4 linked regions of the Homo sapiens genome follow. The protein of the gene in region 1 purifies or fractionates together with the protein of each later gene. This does not show direct contact. Each region holds a gene or a part of one and is shown in the gene's direction. Other genes may lie near its edges.

Region 1 (7,024 bases):
GTATTTTGTTATTTCAATTTTGCTGACTGGTCATGGTAGTATTTCAGTAATACTTGTGTTCATCCTGTTAATACCACCCTCCATTATAGAAGAGATGTCTTATAATGGTAATTTGTGTTTTATCTCTTTTTTTCACACTTGATCAATCTTTTCTTAGGGTTTTATCAATTTTATTTTTATAAAGAACCAATTTTATCTGTGTTGATTTCTCTGTTTTTCTATTTCATTGATTTCTGCTTTTGTCTTTATTTCATTCTGTTGTATTTGGGTTAATTTTTATAACATCTGAGAGGGAAGCTTAGATAATTGATTTTAAACCTTTCTTTAATAGTCTTTAAAGCTATGACTTTCCTCTAATCACTGCTGTAGCTGTACCTCACATATTTAAATGCATTTTCATTCTTCAAAATATTTTCTAATATATTCAATGGAAATTAGAAGTTTTCTGGGCTATTTGAAAGTATGTTGACCAATTTCTAAACATATTGGAAATTTTACTTTTTCTTATTTAATTTTGCTTTGATTACATTGGTTAGAGAACATAACATCCTCTATAATTTCAGTCTTTTGAAATTTATTCAGGCTTGCTTTATGTTCTAATCATATGGAATATGTTGGTGAGTGTTCCATGAGTACTTGCAAAGACTATGTATTCTGCAGTTGTTGAGTGTAGCATTCTATAAATGTCATGAAGATCAAATGTGTTATTAGTATTGTTGAAATCTCTATATCTTTTCTGATTTTTTTTGCCATCTTCTATCAGTTACTAAAAATTCTCCACTATGATTGTAGATATATCTATTTTTCCTTTTGGTTCTATCACTTTTTGCTTTGTATATTTTGAGTCCCTGTTATTGGGTGTATATATTTAGTATAGGTTTTGTTTTCTAGATTAATTGACCTTATTTTTTATAAAACATCTGTCTTTTTACCTGTTAATAAATACTTCTTTTCTTGCGTGTACCTTTTTTTTAATGCTAATATAGCTGTACCAGCTTTTTTTTTTTATCATTAGTGCTTACATAAAGTGTGTGTGTGTGTGTGTTTGTGTGTGTGTGTGTGTGTATTTTTTTTCCCTCAACTTAAGTCCTTATATTTAAAGCGTTTTTCTCGTAAAGAGCTAGTTGGGTCTAGCTCTTAGGTCTGTTTTTTTGTTTCTCTGTTAAACACAATTTCTGCCTCTTAATTGGAGTATTTAGTCTATTAACACTTCATGTTATGACGAATGTGATGAAGTGTAACATTTTGCTGTTTGTTTTATGTTTGTCACATTTCTTTTTCCTGCATGTCTCCATTCCTGCCCTCTTGTGGATAAATAAAGGATTTTCTATAATTCCATATTACCTCCTTTAATAGCTTGTTAGCTGTATCTTTTTATATTGTTTTAGTGTTTTCCCAAGAAATTGCAGTATGCATCCTAATTCAATTTCAGTCTTTTTTTTAACTACTTCATAAGGTAAAGATCTTAGAAGTTAGTTTCATTTACCAGCGTCCATATTTTTGTACTGTTGATGTAACATTTTAATTTTACATATGTTGTAAACGCCACAATAAATTATCATTATTGCTTTACGCTATCGAGTCTTTTTTTATGAAGTAAAATAAATAGTCTTTTTTATGTTTCCCCACATATTATTTGCCTTTTTTGAGGTCTTTCCCTTTTTCTTGCATTCTGTGTTTTCATGTAGGATCATTTCCCTTCAACCTGACAACTTTATGTTTATATTTACTAGTGTGAGTCTGCTGTGTCAAACTATGAAATGTGTTTTGCCTACATTTTTTTTTTTTTTTTTTTTTGAGACGGAGTCTCGCTCTGTCGCCCAGGCTGGAGTGCAGTGATGCGATCTCGGCTCACTGCAAGCTCCGCCTCCTGGGTTCACACCATTCTCCTGCCTCAGCCTCCCGAGTAGCTGGGACTACAGGTGACCACCACCACGCCCGGCTAATTTTTTGTATTTTTAGTAGAGACGGGGTTTCACCATCTTGGCCAGGCTGGTCTCAAACTTCTGATCTCAGGTGATCTGCCCACCTTGGCCTTGATGGTTTTTTTTTTTTAATTTTGGAAAAATCTCCACCATTATCTCTTCATTTATTTTTTTCTGCCTCATCTTCTGTCTTCTTTTTTGGGGTCTCCATGTAAACATAAGTTAGAATTTTTGCTGCTGTTTGACATGTCTCATGCTCTATTCTTATTTTTTTTTTCATTTTGTGCTTCAGTTTGGAAAATTTCTGTTGACCTGACTCTTGAGGCGCTGATCATAAACAAGATAACTGGGAAAACAATATGTTTGTAAAACAATTTCTTGAGATGTGAAATAGTATCTATATTGTACCAAGAGTAGTCCCAGCTACTTGAGAGGCTGAGGTAGGAGGATTGCTTTAGCTTGGGAGGTGGAGGTTGCCATGAGCCAGGATCATGCCACTGCACTCTAGCCTGGGTGACAGAGGGTGACCTCATCTCAAAAAAAAAAAAAAAAAGCGTATTCTTCAACCCTGGCATTCTATCCTGCAGAAATAAAATGTCATCACATAAGCTTGTCTGTGCACAGACTTCTTTTATTGCAGCATCGGTTATGGTGGTAGAAAACTGGATACCAAGACAAAGTCTATCAAAGGGGGATGGCTGAAGAATCAAGCGGAATTCCTGCTATGGAATATCGTATAGCCATTGAAGGTAGTAAATCAGGGTTCTAACAGTTGGAGAGTTTTTCCAGAAGGTATTGTGTAAGAAAAGCAAAGTGCAGGTCAGGCGTGGTGGCCCACGCCTGTGATGCCAGCACTTTGGGAAGCTCAGGTGGGCAGATCACTTGAAGTGGGGAGTTCGAGACCAGCCTGGCCAACATGATGAAACCCCATCCATTTCTACCAAAAATGCAAAAATTAGCCGGGCGTAGTGACACACGCCTGTAGTCCCAGCCTCTCGGGAGGCTGAGGCATGCGAATTGCTTGAACTGGGGAGGTGGAGGTTGCAGTGAGCCGAGATTGTGCCACTGCACTCCAGCCTAGGCGACAGAGCGAGACTCCATCCTAAAAAAAAAGCCAAACAAAGAAACAGCCTGTGTGTGTGTGTGTGTGTGTGTGTGTGTATACGTGTACACAGGGCTTTGTGTGTGACATGGGCATGGTGGAGGTGTGGAAGGCCGCACACCGGGGGGTTAGTAAGGGTTGCCTGGGCTGGGTGGATCGGGGATGGGGTGGAGAGCAAGCAGAGGGCAGTGCTGCCTTAGAGTGAGTCATGCTCCTGGCATAGGGAAAAGCACGAAGGGTACAAATAGACAGTAAGGTAAAAAAAGATGCCAGCAAGTATTTTAAAAACGCCTAACCACACAAAGAGAGGGAAATGGAAGTAACAACAGTGATTTTTACCCATGAAATTGACAGAGACTAAAGTGATTGGTATCTATTGAGTGAGAGTGTGGGAAGATTGGTGGTTCCCTCTCAGCAAGCGGTCCAGGGAACACCTTTCTGGAGAGCACTGGGTGGTAAAACCAAAAGCCACATAGTCTCAGTCCATCAGGTTCACATTCAGAGACTTACCCTAAGAAGATTAAGGTACATACAGAATGATTTATGTTGAAAGAAGTTCATCTTAACATGATTTAGAATAGTAAAAACTGAAAAGTCTAAATGTACAAGACTAGGAAACTGGATAGGTAAGTCCTGATAATTCATAGACTGGATATTAAATAGTGTTAGAAGTATATTTAATAAGAAAAATGTTCAGAGTTTATAAAGTGAAAACCATAGGCCACAGGCTTATTGTGTGAACCCAGTGAATGCTTTGTACTTATGTTACGTGTCCACTTTTTTAAAAGTCTGAAAGTATAAACACCAATGTGCTGTCTGTTATTATCTGTGATCAGTGAGCAAAATTACAGGAGGTTTTAATTTTCTTCTGTGTACTTGGTGTTTTCACACATTTTCTAAAGTAAACACGAATTACTTTTATGTTTAGGAAAATGTGTTTAAAATGTATGTATTGAGACAAGGTTGATTCATTGAACTGGAGTGTGTGATCTGAGGTTCTGCCCCCTGCAGTGATGTCTTCCAGGCAAGCTTATTCTTATATAAAGTGAACGGCCAGGCATGGTGGCTCATGCCTGTAGTCCTAGCACTTTGGGAGGATGAGGCAGGTGGATTGCCTGAGCTGAGGATTTCGAGGCCAACCTGGGCAACATGGTGAAACCCCATCTCTACTAAAAATACAAAAAATTAGCTGGGTGTAGTGGTGCACACCTGTTGTCCCAGCTACTTGGGAGGCTGAGGCATCAGAATCACTTGAACCTGGGAGGCGGCAGAGGTTGCCCTGAGCCGAGATCATGCCATTGCCCTCCAGCCTGGGCAACAGAGCAAGACTCTGTCTCAAAAAAAAAAAAAAAAAAAAAATGGAGGGGTTGGGGGAGGCTCCAAGGACCTGTGTGGGTCCAAGCTGGGCTCTGCTGCCTCGTGGAGGTTTGTGCCATGCCATCAGCTCTTTCCACAGGCCCCTGGCTGTGCCTGCCTGGGGCGCTGGGCCCCTGGCTCTGTCCTCACACTGGTTTCTCTTCATGGGGTTGATGATCACCTTCAGGAAGCAAAGCTGATGAAGGACAAGGGCTCCTCACCAAATAGACACTAGTGGTGCCTGTTTCTGACTTCTTGCTTTGATGTTCTCTTTTAGGGTCCAGATAATTTTTTTTTTTAGAAAAGAAATGTAGAGTGAAGGTGACAGCCTTTGATTATAGTAGTAAAGATGATCCAAATAGTTTGTATAATAAATACTTGGACACATGAATCTGTATTTGAAATTTGAAACCATCCTAATAATATAGCCAAAAAAAAAAAAAAAAAGCTCCAGCGTCCTCTCCTCACGCTTTCCTTGGCTTTGAGCAGGGAGAAGAGCCTGCTGAGTGCAGTGAGGCCGGTCTCCTGCAGGAGGGAGTACAGCCAGAGGAGTTTGTGGCCATCGCGGACTACGCTGCCACCGATGAGACCCAGGTAGCCACACGTGGTGGTTAATGCTTTATGGCTTTCAGCATGTTCAGTGTCAAAAGGAGATAAATTTTGCAGACGTCACACCAAAGTTAAATGAAGAGGTATTCAGATGCGTAGGGCCACACAAGACCTGTGTGTGAAGCTCACAGCCCAGCCAGTTCTGCCTCAAGCATGATGTAAAGATACGAGGCATGGAGTGGGGACCCTCAGCCAGGGGCAGAAGCACCTGTTCTGGTTTCTACTTGGAATGTAGAACCCACCCAGTTAATGAAAAGTAAGGCTACCAAATATATCAAGCTATATCTGCTTGGACATAGCTTTGTTTACTTTGTGACAGGAATTTCTTAGAGTCAGCCTCCAGTAACTCAGTTGGCATAGTTGAGTTACAATGAAGAGGCTGTTGAGAAATTCTCTCCTAAGCCATTTGAAAATGTTTACTCCTTCTTTTAAAAAATATCTGTTAAGCTGTGCCCTCCTTTCAGGTAGATGTTCCAGAGGCATCGCTAAGTCATGGTGTCACTTGCAAACATTCTCAGTTGCTGTCATTACCCACTGACTCCTGTTTGAAATCTCTGTGATTTTGTCACCATTGATGGGATTTATCACTGAGCCACATTTGAAATACCAATGACTGGTTTTCTTATTGAATTTTAACTTTTTTTTTTCCAGCTCAGTTTTTTGAGAGGAGAAAAAATTCTTATCCTGAGACAAACCACTGCAGATTGGTGGTGGGGTGAGCGTGCGGGCTGCTGTGGGTACATTCCGGCAAACCATGTGGGGAAGCACGTGGATGAGTACGACCCCGAGGACACGTGGCAGGATGAAGAGTACTTCGGCAGCTATGGAACTCTGGTATTGCTTTCTAAATTCCCTGTTCAGCTGGCCAGGCGGTGGGTTCTCTCTAGCTTTAGTTCTACTGCAACGTTCAGAGCAGGCCCATAGTCTTACAGGCCAGAGCTCCTCTGTTGTAGCCACTCAGCTCTGACATGGTTGTGTGGAAGCCACTGTGGATGACACACAAAGTGTGCACTGTTGTGTTCCAATAAAACTTTATTTATGGATCTTGAAATTTGAATTTATACTGTACAGTTTTCATGTGTCACAAAGTATTTTCTTTTGATTTAAAAAAATCATTTAAAAATGTAAAACCCACTGTTAGTTTGGAGGCCATCCAAAAACAGGTGGTGGGCTAGATTTGGCCCATGGCTTAGTTTGCCGACCCCTGGCTTAGAGATATGATTTGAGCAATGAGATTATGTGCGTGCTCCCTCAGTATTTAAAAAAAAAGCAGTAAATTTTACTTTAAAAATGAAATTAGGCTGAGTGTGGTGGCTGACACCTGTAATCCCTACACTTTGGGAGGCCAAGGCAAGAGGACACTTGGCTTGAGACCAAGTGTTCAAGACCAGCCTGACAACATAGTGAGAAAAAATAAAAAATATAATTCGTCTCTACAAAAAAAAAATTAAAAAAAAATATAATTAGCTGGGCATGGTGGTGCACGCCTGTAGTCCCAGCTACTCGAGAGGCTGAAGTGGGAGGATTGCTCAAGCCTTGGAGGCCAAGGCTGCAGTGAGCCATGATGGCGCTGTTGCACTTCAGCCTGGGCTACAGAGCGAGAGCCTGTCTCAAAAAAAAAAAAAATAGAAAAAATTCTATAAATCTATGAATAATACTACTTAGGTCAGGTGTGGTGGCTCATGCCTGTAATCACAGGACTTTGGGAAGCTGAGGTCAGAGCATCACTTGAAGCCAGGAGTTCAAGTCTGTGGTGAGCTATGATTGCGCTACTGCACTCCAGCCTGGGTGATTGAACCAGACTCTGTCCCTAAAAAAATAATAAAAGCCCAGCTTCTAAATAGCTTACCGAAATTTTTTCCCCACCATGGAGAAATGCCTATAACCCGATGGTCCAGGCAACAATCTCTGGTTACATTTTAAAACTAGATGAAAACAGTTACTTGCAGGATGAATGTTATAAAAATGATGTTAGTTGAAAGAAGGAATAGGGCAAAGAATCTATAACGTTTGACTCAATTATATAAAGTTA
Region 2 (7,024 bases), on another chromosome or scaffold:
ATTGGGATTGCCTTTCATCTACTGATTACTTTGGATGGAATTAACATTGTTACAATATTGACCTTGTTTACTTCTAATCTATGAACATGGAATGTCGTTATTTATTTATTTAACTTTTGAGACAAGGGGTCTTGCTCTGTGGCCCAGGCTGGAGTGCAGTGACATGATCATAGCTCACTACTGCCTTGAACTCCCAGGCTCAAGCGATTCTCCTGCCTCAGCCTCTTGAGTAGCTGGGACCACAGGCATGCATCACCACACCTAGCTAATTTTTAAAAACTTATAATAGAGACACAGTCTCACTATGTTGCCTAGGCTGGTCTCAAACTCCTGAGCTCAAGCAATCTTCCCACCTTGGCCTCCCTGAGTGCTGGGATTGTAGGCGTGAGCCACCATGTCCTGCCTCCTTCATTTATTTACATCATCTCTATTTCTTCTCTGTAGAGGTTTTACTTCTTTTTTATTAGATTTACAATCTCGGCTCACTGCAGCCTCCACCTGCTGGGTTCAAGTGATTCTCCAGCCTCAGACTTCCGAGTAGCTGAGATTACAGGCACGTGCCACCACACCTGGCGAATTTTTGTAGTTTTAGTAGAGACAGGGTTTCACCTTGTTGGCCAGGCTGATCTCAAACTCCTGACCTCAGGTGATCCACCTGCCTCTGCCTCCCAAAGTGCTGAGATTACAGGCGTGAGCCACGGCGCCTGGCCCTAGGTATATGCTATTCTAAATAGTGCCTTCATATATGCTATTCTAAATAGTGCCTTCAAAATGTGATTGGCTGTGCTGGTGTGTAGAAATACAACTGATTTTGTATTCAGAAAGTTTGCTAAATCTGTATGTTCTTTAGGATTTTAGTACATACACTCAGGTCTATGATAATGAGTTTTTCCTTTCCTCTGCAATCTTATTCTGTTTATGTCTTGCTGCACTTGGCTAGGACTTTAAGTTGAATAGACATGATAATAAACATCCTTGTCTTGTTAGATCTGAAATGAGTGTGTATGTACAGTCAATGAAGTAGAGGAGTAATACTTTTTTCCCCTAATTGTTAAACCAGTTGTTCAGTTGTCTTCCAGTCCTAGCTAATCATTACAGTCTCCTTTGGCATTTCTGTTTTTTCTTTATTTTTTCTTGGTAGAGATGAGACTTCACTATGTTACCTAGGCTGGTCTCAAAACTCTTGGGCTCAAGTGATCCTCCCACCTTGGCCTCCCAAAGTGTTGGGATTACAGGCATGCACCACCACACCTGGCTAATTTTTGTATTCCTTTTTTTTTTTGAGACGGAGTCTTGCTCTGTCTCCCAGCCATTCTCCTGCCTCAGACTCCCAAGTAGCTGGGACTACAGGCACCTGCCACCACACCCGGCTAATTTTTTGTATTTTTAGTAGAGACGGGGTTTCACCATGTTAGCCAGGATGGTCTCAATCTCCTGACCTCGTGATCCGCCCACCTTGGCCTCCCAAAGTGGTGGGATTACAGGCGTCAGCCACCGTGCCCAGCTTGTTTTTGTATTTCTAGAAGAGATGAGGTTTCACCATGTTGGCCATGCTGGTCTGGAATTCCTGACCTCAGGTGATCCTCCTGCCTCAGCCTCCTGAAGTGCTAGGATTACAGGTGTGAGCCACCTCGTCTGGCCCCTTTGGCATTTCTGACCCTTGCTTGCTCAGTGATGTGTATCCCTCAGTGTCTGGAGCACATTGTGAAGAAAAATGCAAGGTTTATGGTTTTTATTGTTTTAATTTTATTACTTTAACTACAGGTAAGGTCTTGCTATGTTGCCCAGGCTGGTCCGAAACTCCTGGGCTCAAGCAGTTCTCCTGCCTCAGTTCTGAAAGTGCTAGGATTACAGGTGTGAGCCACCGCACTCGGCCATCTATGTGCTTTTAAAGTTCCACAGGTGGCTAGGTGTGGTGGCTCACGCCTGTAATCCCAGCACTTTTGGAGGCCAAGGCAGGCAGATCACGAGGTCAAGAGATCAAGACCATCCTGGCCAACATGGTGAAACCCTGTCTCTACTAAAGATACAAAAATTAGCTGGGTGTGGTGGCATGTTCCTGTAGTCCCAGCTACTCGGGAGGCTGAGGCAGGAGAATCGCTTGAACCAGGGAGGCGGAGGTTGCAGTGAGCTGAGATCGCGCCACTGCACTCCAGCCTGGTAACAGAGCAAGGCTCCGTCTCAAAAAAAAAAAAAGTTCCACAGGTGACTGAGCCGTCCTTTGAGAACCAGTGAGGTAGTGTCAGGGATCTGAAGTGATTGAAAATGCCGCTTATATATTCAATCCTTGGATCCCTTTGATGAATTTTTGTATTCTGCTCTTTTATATGCCTGTAATCCCATGTTTTTTAAACCATTGTGCTCTGGCCTTTCTTGCTGTTTGAGCGTAACTTCAACTGTTATTGCCGTGAGCAGTCTTCTCAAGCTCCTCCTGGGCCCGGCTTCCTGATGGTGGCCTCACTGAACTGTTCTGCTGCTTACCACTTGTCTGAAGCTTCCTCTTTTCCCTTTTTGAACTCTTATTAAGCATTGCTGGCTTCCTGTTTGTACTTATATGATGTAGCTGGTACTGGGTAAGAAATCACTAGCAGCTTTTCAAGTAGGAAAGACGGTCTGAGGTGACAGTTTAGTGGCTTTGTAATTAGGCTCAGCACTTACGAGACTATTTGCAGTGTCCGCTCTGTGCCATCTACTTTGCTGCTGGTCTGTGGAGGAAGCAGAGATGAAAACACCGTCTTTGCTGTCAAGAACTCACCTGGTGGAAGAGGCAGATGTATGGATAATCATCACATGATGATAAATGCCATCGTTGTTGCAAAAGTCATAAACGTTACGACAGCATATTTTTAAAATGAAGTTAGTAAATTAAAATAGAAAATTTAATAGAAGCAAGACTAAATTAGTTTACTGGGTTATCTTCTTTAATTTACTTCTATCCTCTCCGTAGACAGTCTGGCACAGGTTTGAATGTGTCCTGGCTCTTCATTACTGAGGCTAACGTTCCACCTAATATATGCAAAAGTGTGTCCATCCCTTCTACCTTTATTCGCATTCCATTACTTTTATAGACTTTTCTTCTTTTGCTTTCATAATTAATACTGGCAGTTGACTTTCTTTTCAGGGGTCTTTCTTCACAAACAAATTTTTTTCATTTTCTTTTCTTTTTTTTTTTTTGAGACAGGGTCTCACTCTGTCACCCAGGCTGGAGTGCAGTGGGGCAATCTCAGCTCACTGCAGCATCCTGAGTAGTTGGGACCACAGATGCAAACCACCACACCCAACTGATTTTTCAGTTTTTTTGTAGAGACAGGGGTCTCGCTATGTTACCCAGGCTGGGCTCAAATTCCTGGGCTCAAGCGATCCTCCCACCTTGGCCTCCCAGCATGCTGGGATTACAGGCATGACTAACCATTTAACCATAAAGAATGTTTTTTTAGTCACTTGAAAAGAGACTTTGTCGTGTTGAGGGTCAGATGCTAAGTTATCAGCAGGCTCAGTCATGTCCCTCTTGATTTTTAGCTCTGGAAGAGAAATGGCCCCAGTTCATCACCCTTCTCTAGCCCAGCCTCCTCCCGCTCCCAGACACCGGAGAGGCCAGCAAAGAAAATAAGGTACTTGGCATTCTCCTGCAGTTTTCATTTGCTGCGTGGACAGGCGGGGGTGAGGAAAGGTGGGAAACGAACCTGGCTCTTAGGCTTTGTGCTGCTGTGACTTGGAGAATCAAAGAAACTTAAGTCCCTGAGAGGTACAATGCAGTACCCACCCGAAGTGCTGTCATCCCTACAGTCTTGGATACTGACTCCAGTGGCCTCTGGCTGTCGCCTCCCACTCCAGCATGAGGGATCGGGTGCAAGCACAGAGGCCATGCAGAGTGGAGAGCAGAGAGAGTCAAGTCAGCGGGCAGTCGCCTTCAGGTTCTTGACTCGAGCTGACCCCCTAGGTGCTTGCAGTTGGCTGGAATGCCACTCCCTCAGGGATCACATCTGTGTCTAGAACTCCCAGGGACTTGATAGGTTGTAAGTAAGGTTTGAAGATTATTGTTTTGTGCTTGTTTTAAGACAAAAGCTGTCTTCATGGCCTCTGTGAACAGCCTCCCTTCATTCTGTTGGAATTTCCTGTTGACTTTTTTTATCCTGGCATACTGAGATCTTAAATGATGGTTGTTTTAGACATTGGCCACTTGGTAGTTAGGAGGGTGTGAGAAATTATTTAATACTTCAGCCAAGAAGCCTTTCTAGACTAAATTGTTCCTTTTTTCCTGACAGAGAAGAGGAGCTGTGTCATCATTCCAGTTCTTCAACTCCATTGGCAGCAGACAGGGAGTCCCAGGGAGAAAAGGGTAGGTTGCTGAGCCAGGAGGAGGGGCTGCTGTTGGTGGTGGAGGTGTTTGTGGAGGATGTAGAGATTAATACCTATTGAAAAAAGGTCTTGAGCATTGCTATGTCTAAGGCATGTTAGATACAAAGAGAGAGATTTCCTCTCCTTCAGAAGTTTATAGTCTGATGAGGGAGAAAGGCTACAGACAGGGACTAACGATTGGATAGAGGTAAGCTCAGTTTGAGTCACCTGTGGGTGATCCCAGTAATTACTGCACAGTAAGCGGTTTGTGTGCGCGCCTTAATCTTGCAAACACCATCCAAGCAACCAAACCATAGAAGATTGAATCTTTTCAGAGATACCCATTGAAAACTCAATGTGAAATGCGAAGTGGGTAGACACAACCATCCATTTCTGGAAGAGGGAAGGAAGCAAACGAGTCTTGATTTCTTTCTTTAGCTGCAGATACAACCCCAAGGAAGAAACAAAACTCGAATTCTCAGTCTACACCTGGCAGCTCTGGGCAGCGTAAGCGGAAAGTTCAGCTGCTGCCTTCTCGGCGAGGGGAACAGCTGACCTTGGTATGGTCTTGTCCATCTACTCCTGCCCTCCCCGGCTTAGCTCTCCTAAGTATTAGGAACGCTAAGGACAAGTTTCTTCTGATTTTTTTTCTAATTTATTTTTGTTTTTGTTTTTTGAGACAACATCCCTCTGTCACCCAGGCTGGAGTGCAGTGGCTCGATTTTGGCTAACCGTAACCTCTGCCTCCTGAGTTCAAGCAATTCTCCTGCCTCAGCCTCCCAAGTAGCTGGGATTACAGGTGCTTGCTACCACGCCTGGTTGATTTTTTGTGTTTTTAGTAGAGATGGGGTTTCACCATGTTGGCCAGGCCGGCCTCAAACTCCTGACCTCAAGTGATCCAGCTGGCTTGGCCTCCCAAAGTGCTGAGATTACCGGTGTGAGCCACCATGCCTAGCCTTCCCGTTTTTTCTGATTGGCCTGACTTCTTCTTTTTCACTTTGGTAGCCTCCACCTCCCCAGCTTGGCTATTCGATCACTGCCGAGGACCTAGACTTAGAGAAGAAGGCTTCATTACAGTGGTTCAACCAGGCCTTGGAGGACAAGAGCGGTAAGGAGCACAGATTGTTGCACACTGGAGAGGTTTCAGGTGTCTGTTTTCTTTGGTTTTATTTTGGTGTTTGAAAAAATGGGTTTCTCTGGGAAAATCCCAAGTAGGGTTCCATGTTTTCTTGTGGTCTTTCTCACCTGAGATATCCGTGTTGGTCTTCACGGGAACTGGACAGCAGGGACCACTGCAATTGAGGGCAGGCATTCCTCCATGAGCTGTGCTGAGAGCCTGCTCTCCGACAGGCATGTGGAAAGAAGTCCCAGACAAGCCAGGACTGCTTCACCTTTCTTTCTTTCTTAGATGCTGCCTCGAACTCTGTCACTGAGACCCCACCTATCACTCAGCCTTCATTTACCTTTACCCTGCCTGCTGCTGCACCTGCCTCCCCACCCACCTCCCTCCTGGCCCCAAGCACCAACCCACTGTTAGAGAGCTTGAAGAAGATGCAGACTCCCCCGAGCCTGCCACCCTGCCCAGGTGAGCTGGAGTGGGGCCGTGGATCCAGCCTTCTGAGCAGCATCCCCGGCTTGAGTTGGAATAAGGGCGTCGTGCCTGTCAGTCGCTGGAGATTGCTCTGCAGGCCGAACGCACCCTGGCTCAGCACACCGGAGCGGGCCCACGTTTAACAGCGCCAGAGCCCGCATCAGGAAGTGTTAGAGAAGGGGTGCTGCGACGCTCAGGATCTGAAGCCTGGCTCGTAGCTGCCCTGAGCCTCGCCTTCCTCATCTGTCAGATGAGAATGATCTTCCCTGTGCGGCACCTCTGAAGTGTGAATGTGGTGGCGTGGTCAGGATATCCTTGCCTGTCAGAACCACTGGTCCAGAACAGCACTGCTTCCTTTCCCTCCAGCACTTCGAGGGCTGCTGGTGTTCCCGGCCCAGGCCTTCACGGCACTGCGCGCGCACACCTCTTTATCAGACGGTAACCTGGGGTTCGTACGCACCCTCCCTGCTCAAGGGCAGAGACTTCCCCATTCATAGTTGTGTGCTCTTAGCGCCTGGCAGGTGAGCTTAGTAGGCAAATAAAGTATATCTAGATTCATACGTGAACTTCAGAGTTCAGACAATTGGACTGTCTTAGTCTCTACACATTAGGCCCCCATTTAGGCCCCATTTTATCCCCTTCTGTCTGATGATCTGTGAGGTAGAAATAACACTTCCTTGATTTACTGTACAGGCCTGTAGTGTAGACTTAGCTGAGTTTATTGACTGACTCTTGGATCCCAGGCTCTGTGGTAGGCGTGGGGAGGACACTGAAATACTGAATACCATCATCTTTGAAGTGTTTATTCCAATTTCACATTTTCTATTCTTCTTCCAGAATCTGCTGGAGCAGCAACCACTGAGGCCCTCTCACCTCCAAAGACACCCAGCCTCCTACCCCCGCTGGGTTTATCACAGTCAGGGCCGCCAGGGCTGCTCCCCAGCCCCTCCTTTGACTCCAAACCCCCGACCACTTTGCTGGGGCTGATCCCTGCTCCATCCATGGTACCAGCCACTGACACCAAGGCACCTCCAACCCTTCAGGCAGAGACGGCTACCAAACCCCAAGCCACATCTGCCCCGTCCCCCGCCCCCA
Region 3 (7,024 bases), on another chromosome or scaffold:
GTTGGTGTACACGGTCACCCTCATCAACAAGGTGTGGCCAAGGACTGGGTGCCAGCTCTGGGATGCTCAGGCTCCTGACCTCCCCACCAACCTCAGCCTTGCCTTCTTATCCCCGCCCTCCAGACGCTGGCGGCGCTCCCGGACCAGGACTCCTTCTACGATGTGACGGATGCACTGGAGCAGCAGGGCATGGAAGCGCTGGTCCAGCGCCACCTGGGCACTGCGGGCACTGACGTCGACCTGCGCACGCAGCTTGTGCTCTACGAGGTGGGCCGGGCCTTACGCTCTGAGGCGGATTGGAAAGAGGGAAGAGAGAAGCGCAGTCCCCAGCGCCCCACCCCACCTGCATACACGTTAACCACTTTCTTACATCCTGGTCCGCCTCTGCTAGAACGCCCTGAAATTGGAGGATGGAGACATCGAAGAAGCCCCAGGCGCTGGTGGGCGGCGGGAACGACGAAAGCCTTCTTCTGAGGAGGGCAAGAGGAGCCGCCGTTCTCTGGAAGGCGGGGGCTGCCCCGCGCGTGCCCCGGAACCTGGGTAAGTACGAGCATCTGTAGATGGGAAAGGGTGGATCTACTAGGCATGGCCCAGTGAGCTGACAGGCCCTGACCCCAACCCCCTCAGGCCCCGCCCCACAGACAGCCCCCACCTCCTCCACTGGGCCTGCCCTACCGACATGCCCCACCTCCCGCCCCGCAGGCCCCACCCCACTGACAGGCCCCGCCTCCAGCTTCTCAGGCCCCGCCCCACTGACAGCCCCTGCTTTCAGCCCCACAGGCCCCGCCTCACCGGTAGGCCCCACCTCTTCCACCGGCCCCGCCCTGCTGACAGGCCCCGCCTCCAGCCCTGTGGGCCCTCCCTCCGGTCTCCAAGCTTCAGTGAACCTTTTTCCTACCATCTCTGTGGCACCCTCAGCTGACACCTCCAGCGAGAGGAGCATCTACAAGTAAGTAGGGAGACAGAGGCCACCCTGGAGTCCTCTCTCCCATTGTCCCTCCGCTTTGCGCCCCTCCATGGGCACTCAGCCTCCTCTGCCCAAACGCGTGCTTTCTCTCTCTCTCTTTCCAGACTTCACCAAACTGCTTCCGTTTGGTAAGTGACTGCCAGCGGGTGGGGTTCGGCTCTGACTGGATCTCCTCCTCCTGTGGTTTCCTTTGTCTCCTCCGACGTTCTGCCTGTCTTTGCCTCTTGTCATGTCTCCCGCCCACTATCTGTCACTCCCTTGTTCTGCTGCCTCTGTCTCTTCCAGCACCCTGTCCTGCTCCACGTCAGTCTCTCCCCTCCACTTCCAGTTTCCTCGTGTCATACCTTCCCCCACTTCCCACTGCGGCTGGGAAGGAACCCCAATATCACTGCCTAGCTCTGTGTGGGTATGAGCAACCATGGAGCTGACACCACAGTTACCATCTCTTCCTCTCATCCCCCCTACCCAGGGCCCCTGAGAGCCCACCCGTCCCCCAGTCCCCTCCTGGGCAGGCCAGGCTGGAGTAAGTACAGAGGCCGGCCTGCCAGGCCTGCCATGTGCTCAGGGCTTCAGCATTGCTTCCCCCAGCAGGGGTTTCACGTGCCTGATGCAACCAAAGCTGGGGGACTCAGGCCTATCCTCTCCCAGACATATGCCTCCTCGGTAACCCAAAGGCTAAGCACTGGGAACCAATTCACTGGGGTCACAGTGGTCCCTGTGCTTCAATAGCAACACCTTAGCAGCCAGAGATGGGGATGTGGACACCCAACCTGGGGCTCATTCTGCCAAGTCTTCAGCTCAGAAGCGAGCAGGGAGGGGACCTAGGGTGCTGTGTGGTGTGTGGTGTGGGGGTGGAGGGGTAACCTAAGGCTGAGGGAAAGGCAGGGACTGAGAGCTGACAGAGGCTGGAGGGGCCAGAAAAGAAACACTGGATTGCACCCATTATTTCAGCATAAACTGAGGGTCCACTGTTTACCACATCCGTTTTTTTTTTGTTTTTTTTTTTTTTGAGACAGAGTCTTGCTCGGTCTCCAAGGCTGGAGTGCAGTGGTGTGATCTCAGCACACTGCAACCTCTGCCTCCCAGGTTCAAGCAATTCTCCTGCCTCAGCCTCCCAAGTAGCTGGGATTATAGGCCTGCACCAGGATACCTGGGTAATTTTTGTATTTTTAGTAGAGACAGGGTTTCACCATGTTGGCCAGGCTGGTCTCGAACTCCTGACTTCAAGTAATCCACCCACCTCTGCCTCCCAAAGTGCTGGGATTACAAGCGTGAGCCACCGCACCTGGCCTGTTTACCAGGCCCTTTCCTGGGCATAGGCTCCCAGAAGCTACCAGACATGCCAAGGGAGGGACAGCCTGATATGCCCATTGGGACAGCTATCCCCTTCCCCTGCTCTAAGAGTCCTTGTCTAGACTCAAGACACCAGCCTGGGCAACACAGTAAGACCTCATCTCTACAAAGAAATTTTTTAAAATTTGGCTGGGTGCATCATTCACACCTGTAATCTCAGCACTTCAGGAGGCTGAGGTGGGAGGACTGCTTGAGGCCAGGAATTCAAGGCCAGCCTGAACAACACAGTGAGACCCTGTCTCCTCAAAAAAATTAAAAAATCAGCTGGACGTGGTGGCACATGTCTGTAGTCCCAGCTACTTGGGAGGCTGAGGGTCAAGCCCAGGAGAGTGAGGCTGCAGTGAGCTATGATCACACCACTGTACTCCAGCCTGGGTGACTGACAGAGTGAGACCCTGTCTCTAAAAAAAAAACCAACCAAAAAAAAACCAGGACAGTGAACATGAACGAGGTTGCAAGTTAGATGTTAAGTAGATCCTCTCCCTGTGTTTTCACCTGGGAATGCTGGGTTGGTAGTAATCCTCCCCAGATGTGGAGGACTGAAGAGGGGCTGGCCTTGGGGGGGGTGTGGTTCTGGTCTGCTCAGCGCATGGACTGTTCCCTGTGTGTCTGTGCGTGCCTGCAATTGGGGGTGGTGTCCAGGGGCTCAGCAAGGCATGTACACCTGGGCTGGGGTGTGTCAGACGCTGTCAGTGACAAGCACCTTCCCTCAGAGCCCGGTTCCTGGAGAATGTGGCGGCAGCAGAAACAGAGAAGCAGGTTGCGCTGGCCCAGGGCCGGGCAGAGACACTTGCCGGGGCCATGCCCAATGAGGCGGGTGGACACCCAGGTGAGTAGGTGGGTGAGCAGGCAGAGCCTGCCTGTTGCTTTGTTGCCCCACAGGGGGCATGGCACTGACAGCTCCTTCCCTTTCTTTAGATGCCCGGCAACTCTGGGACTCCCCAGAGACAGCCCCTGCAGCCAGAACACCCCAGAGCCCTGCCCCCTGTGTCCTGCTCCGGGCCCAGCGAAGCCTTGCACCAGAGCCCAAGGAGCCACTGATACCAGCAAGCCCCAAGGCTGAGCCCATCTGGGAGCTCCCTACCCGTGCACCCAGGCTCTCTATTGGGGACCTGGACTTTTCAGATCTAGGGGAGGATGAAGACCAGGACATGCTGAATGTAGAGTCTGTGGAGGCTGGGAAAGACATCCCAGCTCCCTCACCCCCACTGCCCCTGCTCTCGGGAGTACCCCCCCCTCCCCCACTTCCACCTCCCCCACCCATCAAAGGCCCCTTCCCACCACCTCCACCTCTACCTCTGGCTGCCCCTCTTCCCCATTCAGTGCCTGACAGCTCAGCCCTCCCCACTAAGAGGAAGACAGTAAAACTTTTCTGGCGTGAGCTGAAGCTGGCTGGGGGCCATGGAGTCTCTGCAAGCCGCTTTGGGCCCTGCGCCACCCTCTGGGCTTCACTGGACCCTGTCTCAGTGGACACGGCCCGACTGGAACACCTCTTTGAGTCTCGTGCCAAAGAGGTGCTGCCCTCCAAGGTAAATCCACTCATCTGCAAGGTAGCCCCAAGGGAGGCAGGAGGGAATCAGAGCTTAAGGATCTGACCTGTTGGAGCTAGTCACTCACTTCCCACATGGGGAAACCAAGGCAAAGAAAGGAGTAGGAAATTGTCCAAGGTCTCCTAACAAGGGATCAGCAGTGCCCCAACTAGAATCTAAATGTGGCCGGGCATGGTGGCTCACACCTGTAATCCAAGAGTTTGAGACCAGCCTGTGCAACATAGTGAGACATTATCTCTACTAAAAGTTGGTCTGGGTGTAGTGGCTCATGCCTGTAATCCCAGGACCTTGGGAGGCCGAGGCAGGTGGATCATTTGAGGTCAGGAGTTCGAGACCAGCCTGGTCAAATTAGCAAAACCCCGTCTCTACTAAAAACACAAAATTAGCCAAGCGTGGTGGCGGGCACCTGTAATCCCAGCTACTCGGGAGGCTGAGGCAGGAGAATCACTTGAACCCGGGAGGTAGAGGTTGCAGTGAGTCGAGATCGCACCATTGCACTCCAGCCTGGGGGACAAGAGCAAGACTTCGTCTCAAAAATAACTAAATAAATAAAAATAAATAAATGTTAAAAAAAAAATTAGCCGGGCATGGTGGCTCACCCCTGTAATCCCAGCACTTTGGGAGGCCAAGGCAGGCAGATTACTTGAGGCCAGGAGTTTGAGACCAGCCTGGCCAACATGGTGAAACCCCGTCTCTACTAAAAATATGAAAATGAGCTGGGCGTGGTGGCTCATGCCTGCAATACCAGCTACTTGGGAGGCTGAGGCAAAAGAATTGCTTGAACCTGGGAGGCGGAAAAAAAAATGTTAAAAAAAAAAATAGTTGGGTATGGTGGTACACGCCTGTAATCCCAGCTACTTGGGAGGCTGAGGCAGGAAAATCCCAGAAGATAAGCTGCAGTGGGCGATGATGGCACCACTGCACTCCAGCCTAGATGGTAGAGCCAGGCCCTGTCTCAAAAGAATCTAAGCTCATCCCCATGACTTACACATTCCAGGTTGCCAGTTTGTCAGTTGTGGGATCATTTGGCAATCTAGAGGAGGGCCTTGGAGTGCCCTCTGAGGTTGCTGTCCCAGCTAGTCCCTTCCTCAGTCTTTTTTTTTTTTTTTTTTTTTTTGAGACAGAGTCTTGCTCAGTCACCCAGGATGTAGTGCAATGGTGTGATCTCAGCTCACTGCAAGCTCCGCCTCCCGGGTTCACGCCATTCTCCTGCCTCAGCCTCCCGAGTAGCTGGGACTACAGGTGCCCGCCACCACGCCCAGCTAATTTTTTTTGTATTTTTAGTAGAGATGGGGTTTCACCATGTTAGCCAGGATGGTCTCGATCTCCTGACCTCGTGGTCCACCCGCCTTGGCCTCCCAAAGTGCTGGGATTACAGGCGTGAGCCACCGCGTCAGGCCCCCTTCCTCAGTCTTACACTGCCCTTCCCCCAACCATGCAGAAAGCTGGAGAGGGCCGCCGGACAATGACCACAGTGCTGGACCCCAAGCGCAGCAACGCCATCAACATCGGCCTAACCACACTGCCACCTGTGCATGTCATTAAGGCTGCTCTGCTCAACTTTGATGAGTTTGCTGTCAGCAAGGATGGCATTGAGGTGAGGTCACCCAGCTATGGGTGTTGGGGGGAGGTCTGGCCTTCTCCTTTGGTAGGTGGGCATTTCCTGTCCCTCTGGTGGTGGGCATGGGCTTGGCATTTCTGCAGGGCAGTCCCCAGACACTGGGGCCTCCCCTAGATGACTGAGGGGTCAAGACCAATGCCTCAGGCCTCAGGCCTGCATTGAGGGGGCCATGTCAGGCTCTGGCTACATCCTCAGAAGCTACTGACCATGATGCCCACGGAGGAAGAGCGGCAGAAGATTGAGGAAGCCCAGCTGGCCAACCCTGACATACCCCTGGGCCCAGCCGAGAACTTCCTGATGACTCTTGCCTCCATTGGCGGCCTCGCTGCTCGTCTACAACTCTGGGCCTTCAAGCTGGACTATGACAGCATGGAGCGGGTACCTGGGTCTTGGAGTGGGACAGTCAGTAGGGACAGGTAAGCATCATGACCATGTAGTCTGAGAGTCCCTGGTCTCCCATACCAGGAAATTGCTGAGCCACTGTTTGACCTGAAAGTGGGTATGGAACAGCTGGTACAGAATGCCACCTTCCGCTGCATCCTGGCTACCCTCCTAGCGGTGGGCAACTTCCTCAATGGCTCCCAGGTGAGTGAGAGTACATGGGGACTAGGGGGAGTCAGGGTTCTGGAGCCAACCAGGCCCAGGCTCAGAAAGGGTCCTTTCAGAGCAGCGGCTTTGAGCTGAGCTACCTGGAGAAGGTGTCAGAGGTGAAGGACACGGTGCGTCGACAGTCACTGCTACACCATCTCTGCTCCCTAGTGCTCCAGACCCGGCCTGAGTCCTCTGACCTCTATTCAGAAATCCCTGCCCTGACCCGCTGTGCCAAGGTTAGCACCTGCCAGAATCAACCAAGGCCGGACAAGGCATGAGGAGCGCTGCTTCCTGGGCCTGGCTCCTCCCCCTTCTCCCCATTTGGGCTGCTGTGCCAGGGCTTGCTCCAGCCACCTGGGTGTGAGCTATGCCCTCTGCCAGAAATGCTCTTTCCTCTATTGGCCTGGCCACACCTACTCAGTCTTTGGGTCTGTTTAACTGCCACTTCCCCCAGTAAACCTTCTGCTCCCCATTCACATCAGATGGACTTGTGTCTCTTGCACTAGTCTATGAGATTTGGATGTCTGTGTCCTTAGGGCCCAAGCTGGCCACTCTGGCCCAGAAGCAGCCTCGGGCCATGTCTTGTCTACAGGGTGTGGGGGGACAGTATGTGCACCCCCTTGCTTTCTCAGGTGGACTTTGAACAGCTGACTGAGAACCTGGGGCAGCTGGAGCGCCGGAGCCGGGCAGCCGAGGAGAGCCTGCGGAGCTTGGCCAAGCATGAGCTGGCCCCAGCCCTGCGTGCCCGCCTCACCCACTTCCTGGACCAGTGTGCCCGCCGTGTTGCCATGCTAAGGATAGTGCACCGCCGTGTCTGCAATAGGTAGGGGCATGGACCCAAGAGAGGCAGGACGGCCACCACCCTCCCTCAGACAATAAGCAGGACTTACTGTCCCTCCCTACTCTGACCTGCCTAGGTTCCATGCCTTCCTGCTCTACCTG
Region 4 (7,024 bases), on another chromosome or scaffold:
ATCAGAGCTTTCTAAGACATCTTGCTGCACCTCGGAGCTCCGGTGTGTGAGCAGTACTTGTTGAGTGCCAACTTGAATGTTGGGCTCTTTAGAGCAACACTAGGCTCCACAGGAGAAGCCCTTGAGGGTGCCTCAGAGGTGCTCACCAACCAGTTAAGGAGCAATGTTTCTAATGGGAAACATTTAGAGTAGGGTTCCACATGGCAAATTATATTCCTCATTGAACAAATATTTGTGGAGGGCATAGGGTGGACCAAGCTGGACATCTTGCAAGAAAAGAGTAAGACATCAATTGAAAGCCATAAGCACGCACCAGATCCCAAAGGGCTGTGTATGCCAGTGGAGGTGTTTGGCTTTTATTTTAAAGGTGATGGGGAATCACTGAAGAATTTTGAGCTGGAGAGTGAATTGACCAGACTTAGGTTCGGGAACAATCGTTTGACTATGTCAAGAGCTGCTGGATTGTGGTCAAGTGCTACACTGTGTGATGCTATCTACAAGTCTTTCAAGAAATCATTTGCACTTTTAGTCTATATTCAGGAATACAGTATAAAGAGGATGAGTTCCTGAGGCAAACAGAGCTGGGTTTTAATCCCACTCTGCCACTTACTGGCTGTGTAGTCTCGAGCAAGTTATTTAAATAGGTGTGAGACTTTAGTTTTTTTTCTGTACAATGAAAATACTGATACATAACTGACAGAGTTTTGATGATAAGTAAAGACACTAATGTACCTGGACGTTTCAAATAGTCCTCCCACCACCATTAGATACACCCAAATCAAAATGGCACTTTCAAGCCTAGGAGGAAGGCCAGCTGGCATCCTAAGCCTTCATTTAGCTGGAGATATTGTTGCATTTTCTTCTTAGAATTTAATCTGAGAAATTTTTGCTAATGTGTGAAAATAATTGGCATTCATTCCTGTAAATGAGGATGCTGAGGTAAACTGAGGTCAAAGCCAAATCTTGGATCGGAATCAAACCACCCAAAACCAATACTGTGGAAAATAAAACTGGGTCACAAAGACCAGTGTTATGAAGCGAGAGTTCCAATCGTCCTAGCAACCTTTTAACCAAACACTGGTGCAGATTTGCTGGCCTACATGACGGTGAGAACATCTGGCCTTTCTATTATCCTCTTGCAAGCAAAAAACGATGTTGTGTAAACTGATCTTTAGGCCAATTATATGGTCTAAATGTTACCGTGTTTATGCTGGCACCTCTGACTCCAGGTTTTAAGAACTTATTGTAACCACACCCCTCTTACAAAGACTGTGGGTCTTACTGTATATTACCCCAGGGATTTATTGATGCCGAGTCTGCACCTTTTTTCAGGAAGATAAATTCAACATCAGTCAAATTGTGTGCAGTGCACTGTGGGAGGTCCTATAAGAAATAAGTTACAGGACTTGGTGGCAACAGGAGGAGAGAACAAACATAAGAGTGCAGGCTCTAGGGGCTGCTTTGTTTTTCCCTACAATTTTGCTACATTTTTTCCTATTTACCAGTTGTATTATAGAAGCCAGATGTGGAGTATAGAAGCTCTAGTCTGCAGCTCACTCAGAAGACACTAAACTAGGAGTTGGAACACCTGATACCACCTCCAACTGGCCTTTCCACCACAGACAGGGTCTGATTGTGTCTGCGCATCCCCACCTGCAGAGAGACAGCATTAGACTACTAAACACAATGCGCCAGGCACTGTTCCAAGCCCTTCATAACACTGATTAAGGGAGTCCTCCTAATACCTGTAAGTGACAGGCGGTATGATTACCCCCACTTCACATCACACTGTGGGGTGTCCCACAGTGGGGGCCACGCAGAAGCTCTGAGCTTGCCCCTCCCCTCTGGCTGCTCGATGAGAGCTCTGGGCTTTTGTGCTCAGCTCTAAAGGACCAGGTGGTGGGGAGTGAGGGGAGGGTCTATAATGAACCACAGCACAATGCTCTGGATTAGGTGACCCATGGGCGTACCCCTAGGGTGTTACTGACCAGAGGAAGGAGGACTCTTTGCCTCCACCATCACCATTTTACCCCACCCCATCTCCATCCCTCTGCTGCTCTGGCCAAGACACCACGGCGGCAGCTGGAAGTGCTGACCTCAGGTCTTCCTCCCCACCTCACTCCCCCACAGCCCCCACTGCCCTCTTTCATCCCATCTTCAGGGGACAGATGTGAGAGACCATCTTTTAGTCTGTGGATGCTTTCAACTTTTTTGAAAACCCCTGGGAATCCTAACATGGATTATGAACAGAGATATTGGCAGAAGAAGGCTGGGAGCTCCCGATTTTGTCTCTGGACAAAACAGCCTCTGGTAAAAACAGTAGAGTGACTTATTTCAATTGAAGAGAATAAGTACATGAGCTTCCGGATTCATTAATTAATTAGCCTCCCCTCTCGGCCAGCCTGGTGGCCAGCTCTAGAAGACATCTGAAGCCAGATGAGCACTCAACCCCAGGCACCAGCAGCTCCTTCCCCAGGATGAGGGTTTCCCTTCATCTTTCAAGGACATGAATCTCTTGAGCCTCTCTGTCTGACTTTGCATGTCTAGGAACGAAGGGCAGAACAGATAGCACAGTAAATCCCAGCTCTAAATTGTCGTCATGGGAATTCATCACAGATGGTAATCATTAGGGCCCTCACATCTTAAAGGAAAGCTTTATCCAGAATCATAAATAAACTGTAACCAAGGCTTAGATTTATAAAGCTATAAAAGAGGGCAGCTTGAACAGCCGGGAATGTACAGTACTGGGTTACAAAATCGGCATCATGCCTGAAAGGCTGGACATAAACCCGGGAGCTCTGGGCAGTGCAGCGAGGAGGGGGTAAATTCTTTCTGCAGTGGGTGGAACCCCAGTCACAGCCTCCCCGGCTTAGCACCTGGTTTAATCACATGAAATGCAAGCTCAGAGAAACAGGGGTGCTGGCATCTAAACATAGCATTGCAACTCCTAAACCAATTGCAGTCCCATCAAGTTTGGCCCTTCCTCACCAAGATGCCCTCTGACTAATGCTATGTCCTAGGAATTAATTTTCACTTTATTGCTAAGGTTTCCCACCCCCTACTTTTCCTGAGTGGCTCAAACAACTCCGTTTTTACCAAAAGTCCCTGTACCATGCAGAACACCCTGTGAGGCTGTGAGTTGTGGAGCAGCAAAGCACAAAACAAGGCTGCAGCCTTCCAGAAGTTTCTTGTCTGGCCAGGGAGGCAAGGCATTTACAGATGAAACAACTGTAGTATGCAGGCTGCAATGTGTGGTGTAGGCTGTAACTAGAGAACTCAAGGAAGCAAAGGGTAAGTGGAGGCTGGAGTCACTGTGGGGGAAATGTTTGGGGGAAAAGGGACATGATTTATGACTTGAAGGATGCACAGGGCTGTGCACAAGGAGGGAAGGTTTGCTCAGCATGTGGCTTGTCCCTTCTGTGGCCCATCCTGAGCCAAGTCTCTAATAGCACACTCTCATTTTCCTCTTGTCCTAGAGCTAATTTAAGCAGCAATTGTTCCCCAAATTCCACACCTCACCCTCTTCATTCTCATTCAAGCTCATCCCTAAAAGGCCTGGAAAGGGAAACTCTGTGCTCTCTGGACATATCTCGTTCAGGCTGGACACCACAGGATAACTTCCATCCTGGAGCATGTGGCCAGGAACAATTCCACACCCCAGCCCCAGGCCCAGCATAGAGGGCAGCCTCAGAGAGGAGCAACCCCACCTCAGCCGCTGTGGGGAGCAATTCTGTAGGCATCCAGACATGCCAGAGAGAGAACAATAAGATACCCCACAGGCATGGGAAGTGAGGGAGGCCAGGAGCCCTCAGAGGGGTGGGTACCCACCCAGGCAAGTGGCCAAGCGAAGAGAGCTCACGCCAGCATGGAACATGGTGAGCAGGAGAACCCCTGTCTCCCCTCCGTTGCAGAGCTGAGTGTTGCACAGAAGTTCCTGAGTACCAGATGAGACTAGTGGGTATCTACTGGGGGACAGAGAAAGCATGCCTGTGACTCTGGAGAGCAGAGCAGATACTATAGGGGAGACAGGGCTACTTAAGGCTGGCTTTGGACGCTGACTTTCAGGAGGCTGCTTTAAGGGGTTCCAGGGTCTTCTCTGCATTGTTCAGTTGAGTACCCAAGAAGGGTAGGAGAAAAGCAGAATTCAGGGCAGATGCCTGCTTGGCAATAGAATGTCCCCAGGTTGTATTTCTTAAGGTACACAGGTTGTCAGTTCCTGTGACAACAACTAAGGCTACCTGCACAGGTGCAGCCGCGTGTAGAAGAGGGATTCCCACAGCCAGAACAAGGGCAGGACAAACTGTTTATTATTTACTAGCACTTTGGAGAAGGCAAGGCGTGGATGAGGAAGCTGTATTGATCACATCAGTAGAGATAGCTGCCTCCTTCATTCATTACCGGGAACAAGTGTTTGAGGGGGCACAGACGAGGTAAATGCATCAGGGCCTCCATGACAACTCCAATCACAGAATCTAGCTACATCCTTGAATTACAATATAGGAGAAGCTCGTGGTGTTAACCTTCTGCCATTTCCAGGCATGTAACTGAACTAATCAAAATAAATTACTTTTGTTTATGAAATATGAGGATCCCTTCCAGAAGGCAAAGTAGCAGCAGGAAGAATAATTCTGGAGTCTATTTTGGGTTAGAATCACCAACCCCATCTCTTCCTAGTTGTGTGGCCTTGAAAAAGTAACTCCGCTTTTCTGAACCTCTGCTTCCTCATCTGTGCAGTGGAACAGCTAATAATACCCGGTTAGCAGGGCTGTTGAGGAGATTCAGTTTAATGACCTCTGTACACAGCACCCAGTTAAGGTCAGTCTCATTCCCTTTCTCCCACTTGAGAGAGTTAGACTCCAGGAAAAGATGAATTTTAACAGTTTTGCAACACAGTCCAGGAAAAGGAAGTGGGGAGCTCACTTGTCCTCAAGTTCTACTATGTGCCACTAGAGAGTTGTCACCAACAGGGGCCAGCTTTCCACATATTGCTTGCAAGCCGCCCACCACAGCACCACAGGCCCTGATGTGAGGCCGTCCGCTCACGTTTCCTTCTCTCCAATTCTTTTCTAGGGGCGCTGCATCAACTTCACCAGGGTCAAGAACAACCAGCCAGCCAAGTACCCACTCAACAACGCCTACCACACCTCCTCGCCGCCTCCTGCCCCCATCTACACTCCCCCACCTCCTGCGCCCCACTGCCCTCCCCCGCCCCCCAGCGCCCCTACCCCTCCCATCCCGTCCCCACCTTCCACCCTTCCCCCTCCTCCCCAGGCTCCACCTCCCAACAGGGCACCTCCTCCCTCCCGCCCTCCTCCAAGGCCTTCTGTCTAGAGCCCAAAGTTCCTGCTCTGGGCTCTCTCAGAAACTTCAGGAGATGTTAGAACAAGTCTTTCCAGTTAGAGAAGAGGAGTGGTGATAAAGCCCACTGACCTTCACACATTCTAAAAATTGGTTGGCAATGCCAGTATACCAACAATCATGATCAGCTGAAAGAAACAGATATTTTAAATTGCCAGAAAACAAATGATGAGGCAACTACAGTCAGATTTATAGCCAGCCATCTATCACCTCTAGAAGGTTCCAGAGACAGTGAAACTGCAAGATGCTCTCAACAGGATTATGTCTCATGGAGACCAGTAAGAAAATCATTTATCTGAAGGTGAAATGCAGAGTTGGATAAGAAATACATTGCTGGGTTTCTAAAATGCTGCCTTCCTGCCTCTACTCCACCTCCATCCCTGGACTTTGGACCCTTGGCCTAGGAGCCTAAGGACCTTCACCCCTGTGCACCACCCAAGAAAGAGGAAAACTTTGCCTACAACTTTGGAAATGCTGGGGTCCCTGGTGTGGTAAGAAACTCAACATCAGACGGGTATGCAGAAGGATGTTCTTCTGGGATTTGCAGGTACATAAAAAATGTATGGCATCTTTTCCTTGCAAATTCTTCCAGTTTCCAAGTGAGAAGGGGAGCAGGTGTTTACTGATGGAAAAGGTATGTTGCTATGTTGATGTGTAAGTGAAATCAGTTGTGTGCAATAGACAGGGGCGTATTCATGGGAGCATCAGCCAGTTTCTAAAACCCACAGGCCATCAGCAGCTAGAGGTGGCTGGCTTTGGCCAGACATGGACCCTAAATCAACAGACAATGGCATTGTCGAAGAGCAACCTGTTAATGAATCATGTTAAAAATCAAGGTTTGGCTTCAGTTTAAATCACTTGAGGTATGAAGTTTATCCTGTTTTCCAGAGATAAACATAAGTTGATCTTCCCAAAATACCATCATTAGGACCTATCACACAATATCACTAGTTTTTTTTGTTTGTTTGTTTTTTGTTTTTTTTCTTGGTAAAGCCATGCACCACAGACTTCTGGGCAGAGCTGAGAGACAATGGTCCTGACATAATAAGGATCTTTGATTAACCCCCATAAGGCATGTGTGTGTATACAAATATACTTCTCTTTGGCTTTTCGACATAGAACCTCAGCTGTTAACCAAGGGGAAATACATCAGATCTGCAACACAGAAATGCTCTGCCTGAAATTTCCACCATGCCTAGGACTCACCCCATTTATCCAGGTCTTTCTGGATCTGTTTAATCAATAAGCCCTATAATCACTTGCTAAACACTGGGCTTCATCACCCAGGGATAAAAACAGAGATCATTGTCTTGGACCTCCTGCATCAGCCTATTCAAAATTATCTCTCTCTCTAGCTTTCCACAAATCCTAAAATTCCTGTCCCAAGCCACCCAAATTCTCAGATCTTTTCTGGAACAAGGCAGAATATAAAATAAATATACATTTAGTGGCTTGGGCTATGGTCTCCAAAGATCCTTCAAAAATACATCAAGCCAGCTTCATTCACTCACTTTACTTAGAACAGAGATATAAGGGCCTGGGATGCATTTATTTTATCAATACCAATTTTTGTGGCCATGGCAGACATTGCTAATCAATCACAGCACTATTTCCTATTAAGCCCACTGATTTCTTCACAATCCTTCTCAAATTACAATTCCAAAGA

Evidence for each region.
Region 2: the proteins of PRMT2 (region 1) and POM121 purify together in Homo sapiens (affinity purification with mass spectrometry; 4 studies listed by BioGRID and IntAct, with this or other methods). This does not show direct contact.
Region 3: the proteins of PRMT2 (region 1) and FHOD1 purify together in Homo sapiens (affinity purification with mass spectrometry; 4 studies listed by BioGRID and IntAct, with this or other methods). This does not show direct contact.
Region 4: the proteins of PRMT2 (region 1) and ANTXR1 purify together in Homo sapiens (affinity purification with mass spectrometry; 4 studies listed by BioGRID and IntAct, with this or other methods). This does not show direct contact.

What each region holds. Positions count from the first base shown.
Region 1 is NC_000021.9:46,638,663-46,645,686, forward strand, and holds part of PRMT2 (protein arginine N-methyltransferase 2), read left to right. Parts: intron 1-4,872; coding exon 4,873-4,977; intron 4,978-5,643; coding exon 5,644-5,826; intron 5,827-7,024. UniProt on the Homo sapiens protein: Arginine methyltransferase that methylates the guanidino nitrogens of arginyl residues in proteins such as STAT3, FBL, histone H4. Acts as a coactivator (with NCOA2) of the androgen receptor (AR)-mediated transactivation.
Region 2 is NC_000007.14:72,935,071-72,942,094, forward strand, and holds part of POM121 (nuclear envelope pore membrane protein POM 121), read left to right. Parts: intron 1-3,519; coding exon 3,520-3,611; intron 3,612-4,265; coding exon 4,266-4,339; intron 4,340-4,776; coding exon 4,777-4,898; intron 4,899-5,343; coding exon 5,344-5,446; intron 5,447-5,746; coding exon 5,747-5,923; coding exon of another isoform or gene 5,924-5,941; intron 5,942-6,766; coding exon 6,767-7,024. UniProt on the Homo sapiens protein: Essential component of the nuclear pore complex (NPC). The repeat-containing domain may be involved in anchoring components of the pore complex to the pore membrane. When overexpressed in cells induces the formation of cytoplasmic annulate lamellae (AL).
Region 3 is NC_000016.10:67,230,482-67,237,505, reverse strand, and holds part of FHOD1 (FH1/FH2 domain-containing protein 1), read left to right. Parts: coding exon 1-31; intron 32-123; coding exon 124-267; intron 268-391; coding exon 392-540; intron 541-772; coding exon 773-949; intron 950-1,071; coding exon of another isoform or gene 1,072-1,095; intron 1,096-1,436; coding exon of another isoform or gene 1,437-1,490; intron 1,491-3,033; coding exon 3,034-3,149; intron 3,150-3,238; coding exon 3,239-3,849; intron 3,850-5,311; coding exon 5,312-5,467; intron 5,468-5,667; coding exon of another isoform or gene 5,668-5,686; coding exon 5,687-5,869; exon of another isoform or gene 5,870-5,870; intron 5,871-5,956; coding exon 5,957-6,076; intron 6,077-6,156; coding exon 6,157-6,318; intron 6,319-6,714; coding exon 6,715-6,905; intron 6,906-6,999; coding exon 7,000-7,024. UniProt on the Homo sapiens protein: Required for the assembly of F-actin structures, such as stress fibers. Depends on the Rho-ROCK cascade for its activity. Contributes to the coordination of microtubules with actin fibers and plays a role in cell elongation.
Region 4 is NC_000002.12:69,240,155-69,247,178, forward strand, and holds part of ANTXR1 (anthrax toxin receptor 1 isoform 1 precursor), read left to right. Parts: intron 1-5,070; coding exon 5,071-5,331; 3' UTR 5,332-7,024. UniProt on the Homo sapiens protein: Plays a role in cell attachment and migration. Interacts with extracellular matrix proteins and with the actin cytoskeleton and thereby plays an important role in normal extracellular matrix (ECM) homeostasis.